Regions from separate parts of the Homo sapiens genome. Here regions 1 and 3 are each linked to region 2. The links come from fine-mapping of genetic effects on gene expression. A gene starts in region 2. Each other region holds a variant in brackets. All regions are shown on one strand. Distances are from middle to middle. Region 1 overlaps FBF1 (Fas binding factor 1). Region 2 holds the start of GALK1 (galactokinase 1). Region 3 holds the start of UNC13D (unc-13 homolog D).

The links. PIP is the estimated chance that this variant, and not a neighbour inherited with it, causes the effect.
Region 1: its variant is fine-mapped to the expression of GALK1 in whole blood (TOPMed, PIP 0.94).
Region 3: its variant is fine-mapped to the expression of GALK1 in whole blood (TOPMed, PIP above 0.99).

What each region holds. Positions count from the first base shown.
Region 1 is chr17:75,921,184-75,927,054 of GRCh38, forward strand. FBF1 (Fas binding factor 1) reads right to left here. Exons shown (of 30, transcript NM_001319193.2): 10 at 5,575-5,694; 11 at 5,105-5,243; 12 at 4,847-4,980; 13 at 4,164-4,263; 14 at 2,003-2,458; 15 at 762-863; 16 at 289-377; 17 at 61-119. Among named protein-coding and RNA genes, the nearest start is that of FBF1, 17 kb to the right of the region's middle. RefSeq lists enhancers at 1-1,123, 4,520-5,719. The variant C/CA (reference allele first, on the strand shown) is at 2,874.
Region 2 is chr17:75,763,129-75,768,999 of GRCh38, forward strand. It overlaps GALK1 (galactokinase 1), which reads right to left and starts at 2,064. Exons shown (of 8, transcript NM_000154.2): 1 at 1,844-2,064; 2 at 769-958; 3 at 192-311; 4 at 1-21. The coding sequence starts at 2,008. RefSeq lists enhancers at 1,079-1,288, 1,319-1,548 and silencers at 1,659-1,808, 2,039-2,228.
Region 3 is chr17:75,841,906-75,847,776 of GRCh38, forward strand. UNC13D (unc-13 homolog D) reads right to left here and starts at 2,499. Exons shown (of 32, transcript NM_199242.3): 1 at 2,316-2,499; 2 at 1,579-1,614; 3 at 1,254-1,361; 4 at 1,109-1,168; 5 at 952-1,018; 6 at 528-708. The coding sequence starts at 2,432. WBP2 (WW domain binding protein 2) reads right to left here. Exons shown (of 8, transcript NM_012478.4): 6 at 5,582-5,704; 7 at 5,003-5,079; 8 at 3,794-4,882. The coding sequence ends at 4,829. RefSeq lists silencers at 1,769-1,828, 2,679-2,738, 2,749-2,908 and enhancers at 2,016-2,720, 3,139-3,218, 3,349-3,438. The variant G/A (reference allele first, on the strand shown) is at 2,692.

The sequences.
Region 1 (5,871 bases), 160 kb after region 2:
CCTGGGCATGGAGAATTGCTCCCTAGGCCCTGAGCTAGACCTGTCTGCCCACACCCCTACCTGGACGGGCACGGAAGGCTCTGTGGGTTTCTGGGTGCTCGGGAAACACGTGGCAGGCTCTGAAACATCAACAACAGAGAAATGAACAGGAGGCCCAGGGCACTGGGCCTGCGAGTGTCCAGGAGGGGCTGGTGTAACTCATGTCCCAGGGACCCCAAAGGAAGCTCAAAGCACCTCTTCCTCACCCAGGGTTAAACTCCCAAATGAAGCAGCAAACAAAAAACAAACCAGTGGCTGAGAGGTCTCCAGGGGCTGTTCCCCTCTTTGGGGAACCTGTAGGGAGTGCTGAGGCGGCATGGTTCTGAGTCACAGGGGACCTGAGGACACAGGGATGGGGCATGGTGAGCAGCCTCTGTGTGGGACACGGGGACGGGGCAGGGTGGGCAGCCTCTAGGTGGGACATGGGGACGGGGCAGGGTGGGCAGCCTCTACGTGGGACACGGGGATGGGGCAGGGTGGGCAGCCTCTGCTGGGACACGGGGACGGGGCAGGGTGGGCAGCCTCTAGGTGGGACACGGGGATGGGGCAGGGTGGGCAGCCTCTGTGTAGGGCACAGGGACGGAGCAGGGTGGGCAGCCTCTGTGTGGGACACGGGGACGGGGCAGGGGCAGGGTGAACAGCCTCTGTGTCCCTCTCTCAGGACAGAGGCCTGTGCTGCCCACCATGCTCTCATTCCCACTCAGCCCGCAGCCCAGGCCTACCCCGAGACACCAGGCCTGACACACGGTCTTTCTCGTGCAGTTGTTCCAGAACTCCCTCCAGCAGCTGCGTGCTCAAGCCCTTGTGTGCTGGTGAGAGGTTGGCTGAGGAAAGGCAGCGTTCAAGGTGAAGGTGACAGAAGGCCCAGGTCAGGCTGGATGAAGACAGGGCCCAGGACGGGCTTCACACGTGAAGCTCGTGGCCCCCCTTCCTCCTGCTTCCACCATCCCGTCTTGGGGCATTCTCCTCCCACGTCTGAGCTCCTGGGATTTCTGGGCATCTCTTCCCTTCCAGTACCCCCTTCCTGCCTCAATGTCCACAGTGGTGCAGTGAATGGACACTGTCCAAGCAGTGACAACGGAAATGTTATAGACACTGGAGTCAAGTTCAAGTTCAGAGCCCTGTTCCAGTCCACTTAACTTGGCTCAGCTCTAGATTAGGATTCTGCTCAGTCTACCAAATCTGGCTGGCTCCCTTTCCCATTATTTCCACCTCTTTCTCGGCTCACGGGTCAGTGAAGAGACAGGCTCTTTTCTGTTTTGGCCTGAGCTTTCCCCTCGGCCTCAGGTCAAAGTCAAAACTGCCCTCCTGTCATCAACCCCAGGACAGGGTGATGTCCCTGGGCTGTCACAAATTGCCCAGTTCACTCCCCTGGGCTCTGGCCACAGCACATCTCACCACTTCCTCTGGACTCCCCCAGCCTGCTGGCCCCTTGTGCCTTCCTGCCTTCAGAGGTCACTCGCTATCCTGCCCCACGGATAAGGGCTTCTCCAAGAGGCGCCTCTCGGCCACTATGTCTCCTCTAACACTCTCAAAGAGCACAGGGACATCTCAGCTCACACACGCCATACTCGCTTCAGTGGAGTCGGCAGAAGCACCGGCTGTTTGGATGCCGGGGCTTCCAGCCTGAGGGCGCTGTGACAGGGCAGCGGTGTGTCTGCCACCTCAGGGACCCTCTGTCTTCTCCTCGATCAAGTTAGCACCTGTCCCCATGGCGGTCAGGGCATGAATGTCAACAGCCCTCCTTCTTGGGTATGTCCCTGGGGCAAGCCTGGGAGCCAGAGGCTCTCTCTGCAGTGCCTAAAAGGCAGAGTAGCAAAGCCAAGAAGCGGCCTCTGTGGCCACGGCGCCCTGCCTTGTTCCCCAACTGCTGACTGAGGCTGCAACAGGTGAAGGGGCAAAGGGGCTCCTCAAGTCCCCAGCCAGTCCTCCCCCTACTAGCCACAGCAGCCTAAGTCAGTACCTGCCAGAAGGGGGATGGCCCGCTGTCCCCGCCAAATGCAGGCCCTCAGAGGTCCCAGCATGCTGCTCTCTGGCCAGGCCTTGGGACTTCTTCCGAGACAGGGCATGGCTCAGCCAGTCCTCTTTCTCCTCCTTGGAGGCTCGCAGCTTGGAAGCCTGGCTGGCTTTGGCAGGGGACCCTGCACCTTCAGTTGGTGGCTTTGCCCTGGAGGGGGGCAGCCCAGCTGGCGTGGAGTGCTGGCTCGCAGGAGGAGGCACTGAGGGCGTGACAGGCACTGAACTTTCCCGATGGGCCTCTCTGGTGGGTGAGGCAGGGAACAGGTCCAAGTCCTCGTCCTTGAGGCCCAACCAGTCAGCTCCTCCCTTCCTGGGCTGGATGGGGCTGGAAGCCATTGGAGGGCTCTGTTTGGAGCCTGGTTCTCCCTTGGGGTCTGCGCCACTGTCTGCGAAGAACCTACTTCAAGACAGAAAGGAGGGTGTCAGGCAGGGGAAACAGCCAGTCCCAGTGGCCCCCTAGCAGCCTGCAGCTGGGCGTCACGATGCCCAGGGACCCTGCACAGTCAGCTGAGGCCCAGTGAGCAGTGGCTCCTGGACCGGCTCAGGTGGCAGGCCACGTGCTGTCTGTAGAACACCACGAAGTACAGAGACCTTGACTTCCATCACATGAACCAGGGACAGTTCTACCCACAGAGAACAGGAACAGGATCAAATGACAGCCATGGGCACACAGGTCTAAAGAAAAATCAGGCCGAGCACGGTGGCTCATGTCTGTAATCCCAGATCTTTGGGAGGCCAGGGTGGGCAGATCGCTTAAGGCCAGGAGTTCAAGACCAGCCTGGCCAACATGTGAAACCCCATCTCTACTAAAAACA[C/CA]AAAAAAATTAGTCAGGTGTGGTGGTGGGCGCCTGTAATCCCAGCTACTTGGGAGGCTGAGGCATGAGAATTGCTTGAACCCGGGAGGCAGAGGTTGTGGTAAGCCGAGATCATGCCACTGCACTCCAGCCTGGGCGACAGAGTGAGACTCTGTCTAAAAAAAATAATAATAAGTTGGATCAAGTGGTTTCCAGGTTTTCCAACAACAGTTACTTCATTTGTTCGGCCGTGGCCTTCATCTGTCACTGACCAGTGGCAGCAGGTTCCCAGGGTTAAGAACGTACTGGGTATGGGAAGTAATGCCGATGTGCTTAGAGCTATTCAGATAGAAAGAGGATGAAGAAGCCAACCTGGCAAATGGGAACAACTGCTGAACCTGGGAAAGGATGAGAGGGGCTCCTGGTGCTGTTCTTACAACTTCTGAAGTTTTTTTTTGAGACGGAGTCTCGCTCTATTGCCCAGGCTGGAGTGCAGTGAGTGGTGCAATCTCAGCTCACCACAACTTCCGCCTCTAGGATTCAAGCTATTCTCCTGCCTCAGCCTCCCGAGTAGCTGGAATCACAGGCGCCCACCACCACGCCCAGCTAATTTTTGTATTTTCAGCAGAGACGGGGTTTCACCATGTTGGCCAGGCTGGTCTTGAACTCCTGACCTCAGGTGATCCACCTGCCTTGGTCTCCCAAACTGCTGAGATTACAGGCATGAGCCACCATACCCAGCCGACTTTTGAAGTTTGAAATTACTTCAAAATACAAAGTTTAAAATATATACTGGCAAAAGAACTCCAAACTCAGAAAATCCTATCACTGATTTAATTTTTTTTTTTGTAAACTGAGAGGATCACGCTGTCAGAATTGTCACGGCAGGTTCGACAGCAGAGTTCCTGGGAAGCGGGGTCTAAGAAGCCACCGCAGATGCCAGTGGTCTTGCTACCCATCAGGAAGTATGTTCCTTGGGGAGACCGAGCGACATCACAGCCTTTTATGATTTCAGGGGCTTTAGGTGGAGGCAGGCCCACCTGCCCCTTTCCTTCTGAGGCTGGGTGGGGCACTGGCGAACCTGAGCAGCGTCTGGGATGGGGGTTCCCACTGGGGCCATCTCCTCCACTCTGTCTGGGCTGGCGGGACCAGGCCATCTCCCGCTTCCTTCAGCACCTGCAGAGCTGAGGGCCTTGTACCCTGTGGCCTCCCACATGAGACTCTCGGGTGGGACAGGGGACAGCTGCAGGGGCCTGTCTTCCCAGTGGCCGACCTGTCTCAAGAGGCCAAGCCTCCTGCAGGCCCCACTTACCTGACAGACTGCCGGCGGGACTGCCGGCCCTCAGAGGAGACCACAGTGGGCTGATAGGCTCCAAAGGTGAAGTCCTCGTCACCCCACATATCTTCACTGTCTGTGAATTAAGGAGCCTGTGACCGTGATCTGGAGTAGGGGAACCAAGCTCATTTGCGGCTGCAAAATTCTAACAAAAGCTGAATTTGGTAGCTTGTTGTGTAAGACAAGCAGAGGGAAGCTGCTGTGAAGGGAGCACCTCAGGCACTGGCCAGGAAGATGCAGTGGCCTTGCAGTAGCCAGACCCTGCCCCAGGATCCCTCGAGGTCAGGTCCAGCGAGCGGCATGTGTCACAAGAATGATTCTCAGCAGACAGCTTGTGGGCTGATGCTTTGAGAAACATGTCCAGAGCAGTGCTTTTCAAATGCGAGCTGCTACCCATGAGAGGGCTGAGAAACCAGCTTAATGTGTCACAGCCAGTGTGTTTCCAAATCAAACAGCATCTCAATCATAGACAACTGAGCACGAACAGTGGTCACGGTAAGTATTATTTCACGGTAAGTATTATTTTGTCTCAGCTATAGACGTGTATAATCACATGTGTGTATCAGGATGTGAGGCTGATTTCTCATTATAGGTTGTGATGAAAGCCTGATCTAGAGGCCTCCCTCCCGTCCTGTTGCGGCCCCCGCAAGCCTCCTTACCCTGTGGCCTCTGGTACTTCTTGTCTAGCTTGAACTCCCTGTGCTCCCCGGTGCCCGGGCGGGCCAGGAGTTTGGTGGCCATGCCTCGACCCAGCAGCTCATCCAGCGTGGAGCGAGCAGGGCGAGGCCCTTCCCTGCAGGACGGGACACACGGCAGGAACGTGTAGGTATGAGGGGCTCTCGGGAATCCCACAGTACCCGTCCACCAGCTTTTCCCTGAACCTGAGGCAGCAGCCTGGCCTACTCAGGGATCCTTACTGGTCTCCTATCTGCCTCTTCTCTGCTTTGGGGCTGTCTCCAAACCCCAAGGTGGCCATGATGTCATCCCCATCATCAAACAACAATTCTTCTTTTTTTCGGATGGGGGTGTCCCCAGGAGTTAGAGGAATAGAGGGACCTGAAAGACAAAACAAGGCCCAATGCCTGCAGCCTTCTTGCCCTCAACTGTGATATCTGAATGGGGTTGGGGGTGGTTTCTCTGCACCTTTGGGTAGGACGACAGGCTTTAGACCTGCCTGGTCTGTCCACGGGACCCAATTCCTCCAGCCTACTCCCAGACTCACACGTCCTACCTTCCTATTCCTAAAGGCTGATGATCTCTTTGTACTGGACCTTAGACCTCTGGTCCCCACCTGGGAGAGGCCTCTGGTTCTGCACCAGAAAGGCTGGTTAGCTTGTTGCCAATAAACTCTTCCTCCAGGATGGGAAATGAGCCCACTCCACCCTACCTTGATCTCTCACTGTGCTGGGGCTCTTGTCAGAAGCTGTTTTACTCTGTGTCACAGGCGGCTGCTTGGTGATTCCTCCTTCATCATAGGAGAGAAGTCCTCTCAATGGGTCTTCCAAGTCTCACAGCAGAAGGGAAAGCACAGGTCAGACTGCAGCACTTAGTTGAGGAAAAGCAAGCCTGAACTGGGGAGCAGCGCTCGAGTCAAGGCTTCTAGCTGCTCCAGTACATAAACAAGCCCCCTGGCATCTGGAGGGTGGGGCCTGGGGCAACGGGGACTCCACAAAAAGACAGGCCG
Region 2 (5,871 bases):
GGGCAGCTATTGTGCCCGAGTCTGCAGTACAGGGTGAGGTGGGGAGGCTAGGGCTGGTGGAAGCAGCAGTGGCTTCAATGACACTCCAGGGAGAGTCCCTGCCACCCCCTCCATAAGGCATAGTAGAAGCTGGGACCACCTGGAGACCTCAGGGAAGGAGGGCTGGGTCAGGGCTGGGGCCTAGCTGGTACCTGGACAGAGCTGCTGGAGGAAGGTGTACGTGGCCACTTCCAAGGATGCTGAGCTGGACAGGCCACCCCCCAGGGGCACTGAGCTGACCACCACTGCACTGAAGCCAGGGAGGGGGGCAGCTGCAGGGGAAAGAACAGGTGATGGTAAGAGGGGCTGCCTGGGAGGATGGCACAGGAAGGGCAGGTGTCCTGGCGGGAAGGGCAGCAACGGCCTAGCAGCTGTTTCTAGGGTGTGTGTCTCAATTGTCAGAAGCCACCAACCTGCTGGGCCAAGGGACCCACTGCCCTCCATTTTCCCACCCTCTGAGGTTGCTGGGACACTTCTAATTGTCCTCCTGGTTTAGGGCTCTGGAGGGAAAAAAGGCTGGGGTTCAAATCCTGGCTCCTCCAATCAGGTCACGGGAAACCCAGGGCAAGTTCCCGACCTTCTGGGGGCATCAGTTTCCTCATCTGTACAATGGGATGCTCCACTCTACAAGCCTTCCCCACAGTGTATCAGACAAATGAATGGGCTCTGTGGCTGTGAGGTGGCACTCCTAGTATCAGTGAGGACTTGGCTCAGGCCTGGGCCCCATACCTGGGTAGTACTGAATCACTCCCTTGACATAGTTGGCCCACCGAGGAGTCCCAGGCTCCAGCGAGCGCTGGGCTGTGGGCAGTGGAAACTGCAGCCGCTGGGGCTCATCGGCACCCTCAGAGGTGGTGAGGAGAGACACCAGCCCATCCTTGCGGGGGCTGCCCACCAGCACCGTCATGAGCTCCAGAGCCTGGCAGGAGAGACAAGCAGTACGTGAGGCTTCCGCCAGCTGGAGTAAGCCTCTCCAATGACACTGCCTCCAGCCGAGGTTCTGATGCCTCCACAGTCATCAGGTTCTGAACCTCCAGGTTCAGCGTCGCAGGGAAGATCCTGAGGGCCAGCTGACCTTGGGGGCTTGAGCCCTGCCCCCTTAGGTCTTCAGGGGCGGGGCGGCTGCAGCTGGAGCACAGACCTGGACTCTGCCCTGAGCTGTGGGGCAAGGGGGAGAGCTAGCCCAAAGGGAAAACAGATCACTGGAGCTCCAAAGCCTTTACATTTTGGGGTGGCTCTGGACATCCTGTACCTGTGCACTCCCCAAGCTGCAGATGGGGCGGAAAGCGCCCCCCGCTGAAAGCTGGGAGTCCTCACTCCCAAGTCGCAGCCCCGCCAAGAACCTGCTGTGTGACCTCCAGCAGTTCACTGGGCCTCTCTAGGCCTCAGTTTCCTCCTCTGTAAATTGAACGGGCTGGGCCAGAAGGCTACGTTCGCCCAGGTCTGCGGTTGGGGCCCCACGGTGGCCGGAGGCGCGGAGTGTCCCCTTCTGCGTGGCACACAGGGCCTCACAGTTTAAGGGGAACATGCTCCCAGGTTGAAGGCGAGGAGCCCCAGCCCCCAGAGGGCGGGCTTGAGCCAAGAGGCGGCCGCGCACCCTCTCCCGGCCACTTCCTCGCTTCCTCCCTTCCAACGTGGGGAACAGCCTGTCCCGGGGACTCTTCCGTGCACCGGTGCTCCAGGCGCAGCTGCCCGCCCCACATCTCCCGCGGGAAGAACTCGCCCCCAGCGTCCCCGAGGCCCGCCCTCCTCGGCGGCCGGGACAGGCGGCGGCGGGCTAGGGGCTCCCCGTGCAGCCCCTCACCATAGGCAGCACCAGGCCCTGGTTGTAGTCCGTGTGTTCCCCGATGAGGTTGACGCGGCCCGGCGCTGACACGGCCAGCTCGGGCTCGGCCCCGAACTCCTCCCGGAAGGCTCGCCGGGCCTCGGCCAGCAGCTCCGCGACCTGGGGCTGTCTCAAAGCAGCCATGACGCGCGCCTGCAGCTCTGCACAGCTGCTCCGGCACAGCCCCGTCGGCGCGGGATGCTCGGGCGGGGCCCCGCGCGGGGGTGCGCACATTCCCGCCAGCCCCGCCCCGCGCCCGGACGCCCCGCCCCCAGACCTCAGCCGGTTCCGCCCCCACCCGCAACTCCCGTGGGAATCCAGCTGCTGGGTGGTGGGTGGCAGGGGCTAATGGTGCCGGGTGGGATACAGCGCCCCCGATGGTGTCCTTCCCTCTGGACTTCGGGAAGAACCAATGAGCACTCACTAGAGTGAGAATAGCCCTGAGTGGCACTTGGCATGACCAGGATTTCTGAGCTGCCCTTCCCTGGCGCTGGTGACTTTCTATGTGCCTCACCACCCACCACCACCCACACAGCCAGAGCAATGGAGCTGGCACCCGGTTGACCTGGGATTCCCAAAGGGATCCCCTAGGTCCCCAGGGCCAGCAGCTGTGAGAGGTCATCAGCCTCTGATCACCGGTCTCCAAGAGGGTGACCTGACACTCACTGTAAGTAGAGATAAAGACAGACAAGTTTGGGCCGGGCGCAGTGGCTCACGCCTGTAATCCCAGCACTTTGGGAGGCCGAGGTGTGCAGATCACCTGAGGTCGGGAGTTGGAGACCAGCCTGACCAACATGGAGAAACCCCATCTCTACTAAAAAATACAAAATTAGCTGGGCATGGTGGCTCATGCCTGTAATCCCAGCTACTCGGGAGGCTGAGGCAGGAGAATCACTTGAACCTGGGAGGCGGAGGTTTCGGTGAGCTGAGATCACACCATTGCACTCCAGCCTGGGCAACAAGAGCAAAACTCTGTCTCAAAAAAAAAAAAGACAAGTTTGGTGGTGACCAGAGAGTCAATTTTACAAGCTCCTTTTCTAGGTAATACGCAACAGCTCCTAGCAATGGAGAATTGGACTAGGGTGGCGGTGGCCAGCAGTGGGCCCAGCCCCTCCCTTAAGGACCTGCCACAGCTGTCCAGGTAGGTTGTGCTGTTGGCCCCAGCAGGCACTACTTCAGCCCAGAAGCCCTTGTCTCAGAGGCGTGGCCTTGTTCCCAGTCAGGCACTCTTCTCTTGCTATCCTGCATCCTAAACCTGCTGGCCGGCCCCAACTGCTGCCTTGATACCTGTCCACAGCTGCCCACCCTACATGGAACCTTGAAACTGAAAGACTGAAATGTAAGCAGCTTGCTTGGGGTTAGGGTGGGAGTAGTGTGGGGAGTTATGGCCAGGGATTTAGCTTGGGGCCTGCTCAGGGGTGTGCCCAAAGAGTGGGGAACTGCATTCCAAGGGCAATTCTGAAAACTCTTAGAAGAAAACATAGGGGTACAGTTTTGTGACATTGGTTAGGAAATGTTTATTTGGTTTCTGTTTTTGAGACGGAGTTTCGCTCTCGTTGTCCAAGCTGGAGTGCAATGGCGTGATCTCAGCTTACTGCAACCTCTGCCTCCCGGGTTCAAGCGATTCTCCTGCCTCAGCCTCCGGAGTAGCTGGGATTACAGGCACGTGCCACCATGCCCGGCTAATTTTTTGTATTTTTAGTGGAGACTGGGGTTTCACCAGGTTAGCCAGGCTGGTCTCAAACTCCTGACCTCAGGTGATCCACCCACCTTGGCCTCCCAAAGTGCTGGGATTACAGGCGTTAGCCACCACACCTAGTCATGTTTTTTTATTTTTATTTATTTACGTATTTATTTATTTTAGACAGATCTTGCTCTGTTACCCAGGCTGGAGTGCAGTGGCGCGATCTTGGCTCACTGCAACCTCCGCCTCCCAGGTTCAAGCGATTCTCCTGCCTCAGCCTCCCCAGTAACTGGGATTACAGGCACCCTCCACCATGCCTGGATAATTTTTGTAAAAGCAGGGTTTCACCATGTTGGCCAGGCTGCTCTTGAACTCCTGACCTCAAGTGATTTGCCTGCCTCAGCCTCCCAAAGTGCTGGGATACAGGTGTGAGCCAATGCGGCCAGGCAATGGTTTTTTAGATATGACATCAAAAGCACAAGTGACAACAGAAAAATAAACTGTACTTCATCAAAGTGAAATATTTTTCTGCAACAAAGAACTGTCACGCGTGTCCGTGTGAACAGACCACCAAACAGGCTTTGTGTGAGCAACAAGGCTGTTTATTTCACCTGGGTGCAGGCGGGCTGAGTCTGAAAAGAGTAAGCAAAGGGTGGTGGGATTATCATTAGTTCTTATAGGTTTTGGGATAGGTGGTGGAGTTAGGAGCAATGTTTTGCGGGCAGGGATGGATCTCACAAAGTACATTCTCAAGGGTGGGGAGAATTACAAAGAACCTTCTTAAGGGTGGGGGAGATTACAAAGTACATTGATCAGTTAGGTTGGGGCAGGAACAAATCACAGTGGTGGAATGTCATCAGTTAAGGCTATTTTCACTTCTTTTGTGGATATTCAGTTGCTTCAGGCCATCTGGATGTATACGTGCAGGTCACGGGGGCTATGATGGCTTAGCTTGGGCTCAGAGGCCTGACAAGAACATTGTCAAGAAAGTGAAAAGACAACTCACAGAATGGAAGAAAGTACTTGCAAATCATGTATATCTCAGGGGCTTGGAGTTTGAGACCAACTTGGGCAACGTGGGAAGACCTCACTGCTACAAAAAAAAAAAAAAAAATTAGCCAGGTTGGGTGGCACACACCTGTGGTCCCAGCTACTCAGAAGGTGAGAGACCCTGTGTCAAAGAAGAAAAAAAAAAAGCAAAAGATTTCAAGAGACATTTTTCCAAATAATATAAATACAAATGGCCAATAAGCACATGAAAAGATGCTCAAATGTCAGATGTGGTGGTTCATGCCTGTGATCCCAGACTTTGGGAGACCGAGGTAGGCGGATCACTTGAGAGCAGGAGTTCAAGACCAGACCAGCCTGGCCAACATGGTGAAACCCCATCTCTACTGAAAACACAAAAATTAGCCAGGCATGGTGGCGCACATGTGTAATGCCAGCTTACTCGGGAGGCTGAGACACAAGAATCACTTGAACCCGGGGGGTGGAGTTTGCAGTGAACCGAGATCTCGTCACTGCACTCCAGCCTAGGTGACATAGTGAGACTTGGTCTCGGGAAAAAAAAACAAGTGATGTATCTATACAATAGAAATATTAATCCATAAAAAGAAATGAAGTACTGATACGTGTAACAACATGGATGGAGCCTTCAAGAAAAAAATTAGCTGGGCGTGGTGGCGGGCACCTGTAGTCCCAGCTACTCGGGAGGCTGAGGCAGGAGAATGGCGTGAACCTGGGAGGCGGAGCTTGCAGTGAGCAGAGATCGTGCCACTGCACTCCAGCCCAGGTGACAGCGCAAAACTCCGTCTCAAAAAAAAAAAAAAAAGAATGAACTTTGAAAATATTATGGTGAGTGAAGGAAGCCAGTCACACAAGACCACCTGTTGTATATCCAGAATCGGCAAATCTCTACAGATGGAAAGTTAATTAGCGGTTGCTTAGGCCTGAGGGAATAGCAGGGTCAGAGCCAAAGGATGGCAGGTTTCTCTGTGGTAAGGAAAATGTTCTAAAATGGACTGTGGTGATGGTTGCACATGCCTGTGAATATCCTAAACTGTTGAATTTTATGTTTTAAATGGGTGAATTATATGGTATGTATTATATCTCAATAAAGCTGTTAAGAAAAGAATGGGGCCCAGGTGTGGTGGCTCACGCCTGTAATCCCAACACTGGGAGGCTGAGGTGGGCAAATCGCTTGAGACCAGGAGTTCAAGACCAGCCTGGGCAACAAAGGGAGACCTCATCTCTCCAAAAAAATCAAAAATTAGCCGGGCACGGTGGCTCATGCATGTAATCCCAGCACTTTGGGAGGCCGAGG
Region 3 (5,871 bases), 79 kb after region 2:
GCCCGGCTAATTTTTTGTATTTTAGTAGAGACGGGGTTTCACCGTGTTAGCCAGGATGGTCTCAATCTCCTGACCTCATGATCTGCCCTCCTCAGCCTCCCAAAATGCTGGGATTATAGGCGTGAGCCACCACGCCCGGCCTTTTTTGTATTTTTAGTAGAGATGGGGTTTTGCCATGTTGGCCAGGCTGGTCTCAGTCTCCTGGCCTCCCAAAGTGCTGGGATTACAGGTGGGAACCACTGCACCCATCCCTGCCTCCTTTCAGGTACAGCTTCAGGCACCCCCAGACTCACCCACAAGGGCCTGACCCTCCTTGCCCCATCAGCACGTGTGGCATTGATCTTGTTCTGTCCCATCTGACCTACTGTCCACCTAACGTGCCTGGAGATGGGCTTCTCCTCTAGTCTTTGCCCAGGGCCAAACCCCCTCCCCTGAGCCAGGACGACCTACTCATCTCATTGTCTGGGGCAGACCCTGCTACCCAGGAAAGACCTGGATAGAGTGGGGGCTGGAGCACGGCCACGTACAGGATGAAGGTCTCGTCCCAGACGGGGTTGAGTGTCTGGGTGATGACCTGCGTGCGGTGGGTCTCCTCCTCGGGGATGGTGTGCCTCACCACAGCCTTCTGCCGATGCCGGGACCCGGGGCTGCCCCCTGGCACACCTACCCCCTGCTCAATGCCCAGCAGGCAGTAGGGGTCGCTGAACCCTGTGGAGGAGTGGGGAAGACGAGGCAGCCAGGGAGTCGGCTGGGTCCCTGGGAGAGGCCCTCATCACCCCCGCCCGGGGCTGAGCCTCCTCCGGGGGAGAGGGAAGGGGACCAGCAGCATGGGGGGCCAGCGCTACAGGGCTTCTTGGAAGTGGGTGCTCCCGCCAAGAGTCCTGGGCCAGGCTGTGATGGGAGAGGAAGGAGCCAGGAAGAAGCCCCTTGGGGACCCCACCCCATGCTCACCACTGACATCTTTGCCCAGAATGCCCTTGGCCTGTTTCACTGTTGCCTTCAGACAAAATATTGGCTTCTGGAGGGACAGGAGGGATGGCCTGAGTCCCTGAGGGGGCTGGGCTTCCCAGGCCCCTCCTTGCCCAGGGGGACCCTGGCCCCAGGTTACCTCAAGCTCCCTGACCCGCTGCAGTGTCTGCTGGTGCTCCTCGGGCTCCACGTGGAAGGCCTGGTGGGGAGGCAGGCGGGTGGGTGGCTGGGGGCACCAGACAGGGCAGCTGCAGGAAGGGGGGTGGGGTGGGAGCCGGGCTCACCTCCTGCAGGTATCGCAGCAGCTCAGAGGCCTCCGTCACATGGTTGGGCTCAGGATGACCCAGGCGGTGCAAGACAGTGTAGAGTGCGTCCTCGTAGAGCAGGGCCCGCTAAGACACACGGGGTCACCTTGGGGACCCCACCAGCCACCCCTGGCACCAACACCTCTCGCCATGGGCAGGACAAGGGCGGCTTGTGCAGCGGAGGGAGTTGAGACCCAGGAGTCCCCTCCCCACCGCAAGTTGCTTGCTGCCATCAGCGTCGGCCGGCAGGAGGACACACAGCCGCCCTCCCCACCTCTCTGCACCCCAGCACTCTGACTCTTACCTGCTCGGGGGAGAAGTGGTGGGATGGAGGCTGGATCTGCAGAGCAAGGTGGAAAGGCAGTGTCCCGGGAGGCCCAGAGCAGGCTCAGATGGACAGGAATGGCTCCTCTGAGGCCTGATCCAGGCCAAGGGTATGGGGGCCCCAGCACCCCGGCCTCCAGCCCCAGTGATGCCCCGCACCTGTTCCCCCAGCAGGCCTCCTGGAGGTCCGTCCCTGGGCCCGCCGTGGCTGAGGTCCATGGGTGCCCAGCAGCGCGAGCCCTCCGCACCCGCACCCCACCTCCCTCCCTTCCCCAGAGGAAACAGCTCTGCTTATCAGTGGCGGCTGCTCCTCACCCAGCAGCGGAAGTGAGGCTCGGCAGCGGAGGTGAGGGGGGTGCCACGTCGGCCTGGGGGTCTGCTGCTCCCCGAACAGCTCACCCCACAGCAGGGACACCCCCACCTAATGGAGTCGGCTCTTCTGAAGCTGGAGGAGTAGGGGATGGGGTCAGGCCAACCGGGAGGGAGGGGTTCTGAGAGCCTCAGACCACAGGGCCTGAGGCCCACAGTGGCCCAGAGTCCATCTGGCAGCCCCTGCTCTGCTGGCCCAGGGGGCTCTCCCCAGGGTGGAGTAGGCAGGGGAGGGTCGCTGGTCCCCAGTCCCAGCCTTCGAGAGGTGGGGCCAGACAGCAGGGCACCCGTACCCGAGACCACAGTGCTCCCCAAGGCCAGCTCTCTCCCCAGTGAGGTCACTCCTACCTCCGGGGCCATTTGGGGCGGGGGATCCTGTAGATCTCTGACTCTGCGGCGCCTTATCTTGATGGCCTGGCGCAAGAAGGGAGGGCGCTGCTGCGGATGGGAGAGGAGTGTCGCCATGGTGGCCTTCTCTGCCCTTCCCTGTCCGCTGGTGCTGGGTGAAGACAGCGAAGCCACAGGATTATGCAAAGAGCCTGGGGCTGCCACCCTCTGTCAGGGGAAGTTTTAGGGAGGGTGGCTGGGAGGGACGGAAGGGTGAGGGTTTCACCGCTTCGGAGAGGCAGTCTCCCAGGCCCCCTGCACCTTCCCCAGCTGGGATCCCTACAGGACCCTCCTCTGGCTGGAGCAGAAGGTGGACCCCGTGGGCAGGCCTGGCCCC[G/A]CCCCACCCTCCTACAGAGGCCCTGGGAAGGGGACAACGCTCTCAGCAGGGGGCGGGGGGGCCCAGAACAGGCGGGCAGCATCCTGCCCCATCCATGTGCTGTGCCCAGGCTGGGCTGAACCCTGAGAGAAGCTGACCTGGGCCCGGGGGGGTTCTCACCCCACTTCCTCGAGTGCGTCCAGACGTGGGGCGGGGCGGGGTGGGGTGGGGTGTGGTGGCGCCCAGGGTGGGGGCTCCCAAGAGGCGTCTCCCTGGAGGACAGCCAGTTGCTCAGCCTGCCTGGCCCCACAGGTGACATTCCTTGGAGATGACGGGGCCAAGCTGTGCTGGGCAGGGACAGCCCTGTGCCCCTGCCCCCACCTTGGCAGTCAGGACAGTGCTCCCTTCAGACACCCTTGAAGGGGGCTTAGCCAAGTCCCAGAGAGCTCTGGGCCAGGCTGGCCAGGAGGAGGAGGCAGAGGGGCTGCTGCCCGATCTCTCCTGAGGACAGACTTGGCTCCCGGGGGACAGGAAAATGCGCCTCAGCATGGGGCTTTCCTAGAGCTCTGTGGCCTGCCCACCCTGTGCCCAGTGCTGGGCTGGGGGACTTGCGGGCGTGTGGGCCTGGTCACGGCCTTTGGCCATTTCCCACCCTCCTGTCCCTTCAAGTTCACAGCAGGGCACGTGACGTGGGTGGTGGCAAGCCGGCTTGGCTACCTCAGTGTCCCTGTCACAGGTCCTGACGTGCTCCAGGGCTGACTCGGCCTCCTCCCTCCAGCAACCAGGACTTAGGCCAGGGCTGCCATTCCTCGAGGAGCCAGCAGGGGACAAGGTGGCAGCCCCAACTCCTCCCTTCAAGGCCAACTCTGGGCCACATCCACCTCTGTCCCAGCCAGGCCCTGGGGACTCAGTGGGGGAGGGACACAGCTGCTGAGCGACAACCGTTAAGAACCAGCTCCAGAGGCCAGAGCTGTCTTGGGGACCAGACAGGCTGGCTGGGCCGTGAGAATGGGGATCCTCCCATGGGAGGGAACCGTCCCAGAAGTCTCCAGGGCCCTCAGCGGCCAGACGGCTCTCCTTCCGGAAGAGACCCCCGGGTCACCACACGCAGAGCCAGAAAGGGTCCAGTTATTTCATTTTTACTATTTCACATTTTCAGCAAACAAATCGAGGTGCAAACAGGGTTTATTTCACATTAATATATTAACTGGATTTTTTGTCAAATAAATAGGGAATTCTCTTTAAATAACCATCTCCTCACTTCATGGCCAGTCCAGGGACAAACAAGAGTGAATGTTAGCGCATCCAGGGGCACAAAGCTTAAGGGGAAGAAGCAGGCTGGGGGGCTGGTGGCAGGTCCCGGCCAGCACACAGGGTCAGGGGCCCTTGTTCCCGGCCCCACCCAGCAGCCACCAAGTGGACAGACATGCATTCTCTGGTTCCAGTCAGGAAGCTCCTTCTAGAAGGAAGTGAGAGGTGAGGGAAAGCAAATTCCAGAAACACCAGCAAAAGGCAGAAGGGCTTCCTCCCAGCCTCGGCGGCCCTGCCCCGACGCCACCCAAGCCCTGGAAGCTCATTTTACAGCTTCAAAAGTCACACAGGGTGGCAACAACATGACCCAGGACAGGGAAGGGAAGGAAGGGTGGCGGGGGCTGCAGCTGGACCCTGGCTGAGTGGAATGCGGGCGCGGTGGCCTTCTGAGACCAGCACAGACCAGCAGAGGGAATGTGAGCAGGGTCTGGCAGGGCCCGGGAAGACACCTGGCTGGTCTGAAGTGGCTCATGAGGCTGAGTGTAGCAGTGGGTGCCAGACTGAGGGAGCTGGACTGCGGTGGAGGAGGTGGCCAGAGAGTCCCTTCGAGGGGAGAAGCTGAGAGTGAAACAGGAACAGGGGATGCTCCGTGCTCCCAGAAGAGCCCCAGACGGTGAGGGAGGTACGCTGGGCAGCACTGTGGGCTCCGGGCTGGCATGGGAAGCTGGGCGGCACCTCTCCCGAGGCCGGGGGCCCTAATGTCCCACAATGCTAGTTCCTGGTAATTGTTTATGATCAGACCTGGAGGGAGAACAAGGCGCCCCCTCCCCTCCCCAAGCCCCAGCACAGCCCCGATGGGAGGGGTAGGGTAGAGAGATGAGGGTGGGAGGCAGGGAGGCAGGAGGGCCTACTGGGTCTTCTTATCTTCCGGTGGGTAGTAGGGAGGTGGCGGCGGCTGGCTCTAAAGAAGGGAGAAAGGAGAGACTTGCATTAGAAGGTTTAAAACATGGTGCGGTCATCCCCCTGCGGCTCCCAGCATCTGCGGCTGTGGGGCTGCACCGGCACTGCCAAGCCCTCTCACCGTGGGCATGTAGACGTTGTGAGGATTGCCTGGGTTGTAATAGGCGCTGGCGGCTGCTTCTGCGGCCTTGGCTTCGGCTGTGAGAGCAAACACACCTGGTGTCGGTGACAAGTTCTCCTCCCCCTGAGCTCAGCTAAGAGACCCCGGGCCCCCATGGCTCGGGGCAGCTGGTGCTGGGGGTCCAGTTCCACCAATGAGAGCAGCAGGTGAGGTTTCCTGAGCACATGCCACGCGCTGGCACGGTCCTTTCCAGGCCCATCGCATGTCTCACCTCATCTAATCCTTGAGCCAATGCCCCAGGTGCCACTGTGACCGACCAGCTGAGTGTAGATGAGAGGATCGAGAGGCACACAGGGTGACCTTCCCCGCCCAGGGCACATGGATAGCTAAGGGATGGGGGTGGGGCCAGAATCTAGCTCCGCTCCACCAGGCCACAGCCCTGCTGGGCCCCTGGGGTAGTCCAGGGGTCATCCATCATCTGCGGCTCTCAGCAGTCTCTGGCCATTCTGAGGCTCTCTGTGCGACATCGGGGAGGAGAGGGCTGGTCCCGAAGGGCTGCCAGCACCCAAGGGCCCTCACCTGCAGGAGTGGAGGGGACATCGGGGCCGCTGACCGGAGGTTCCATGGGCCCAGGGTAGGGCGGTGGTGGGGGCTGCACGTATCCCATGGCCCCGTCCATCATGGGGGGTCCTGGATAGAACTCTGCTCGGTGAGAGAGTAACAAGGACATGGTGAGCACCCGGCTGCGGCCCCCTCCCGGGTGAGGGGGGCCTCTCCAGCTCCTTCGTTGGTCCTGAAGCAGCTCAAGGAATAAAGTCTCCCTGGCCTGGGGGGAGCCTGGGTAGGTGGGCTCATGAGGGGAGTGGGGG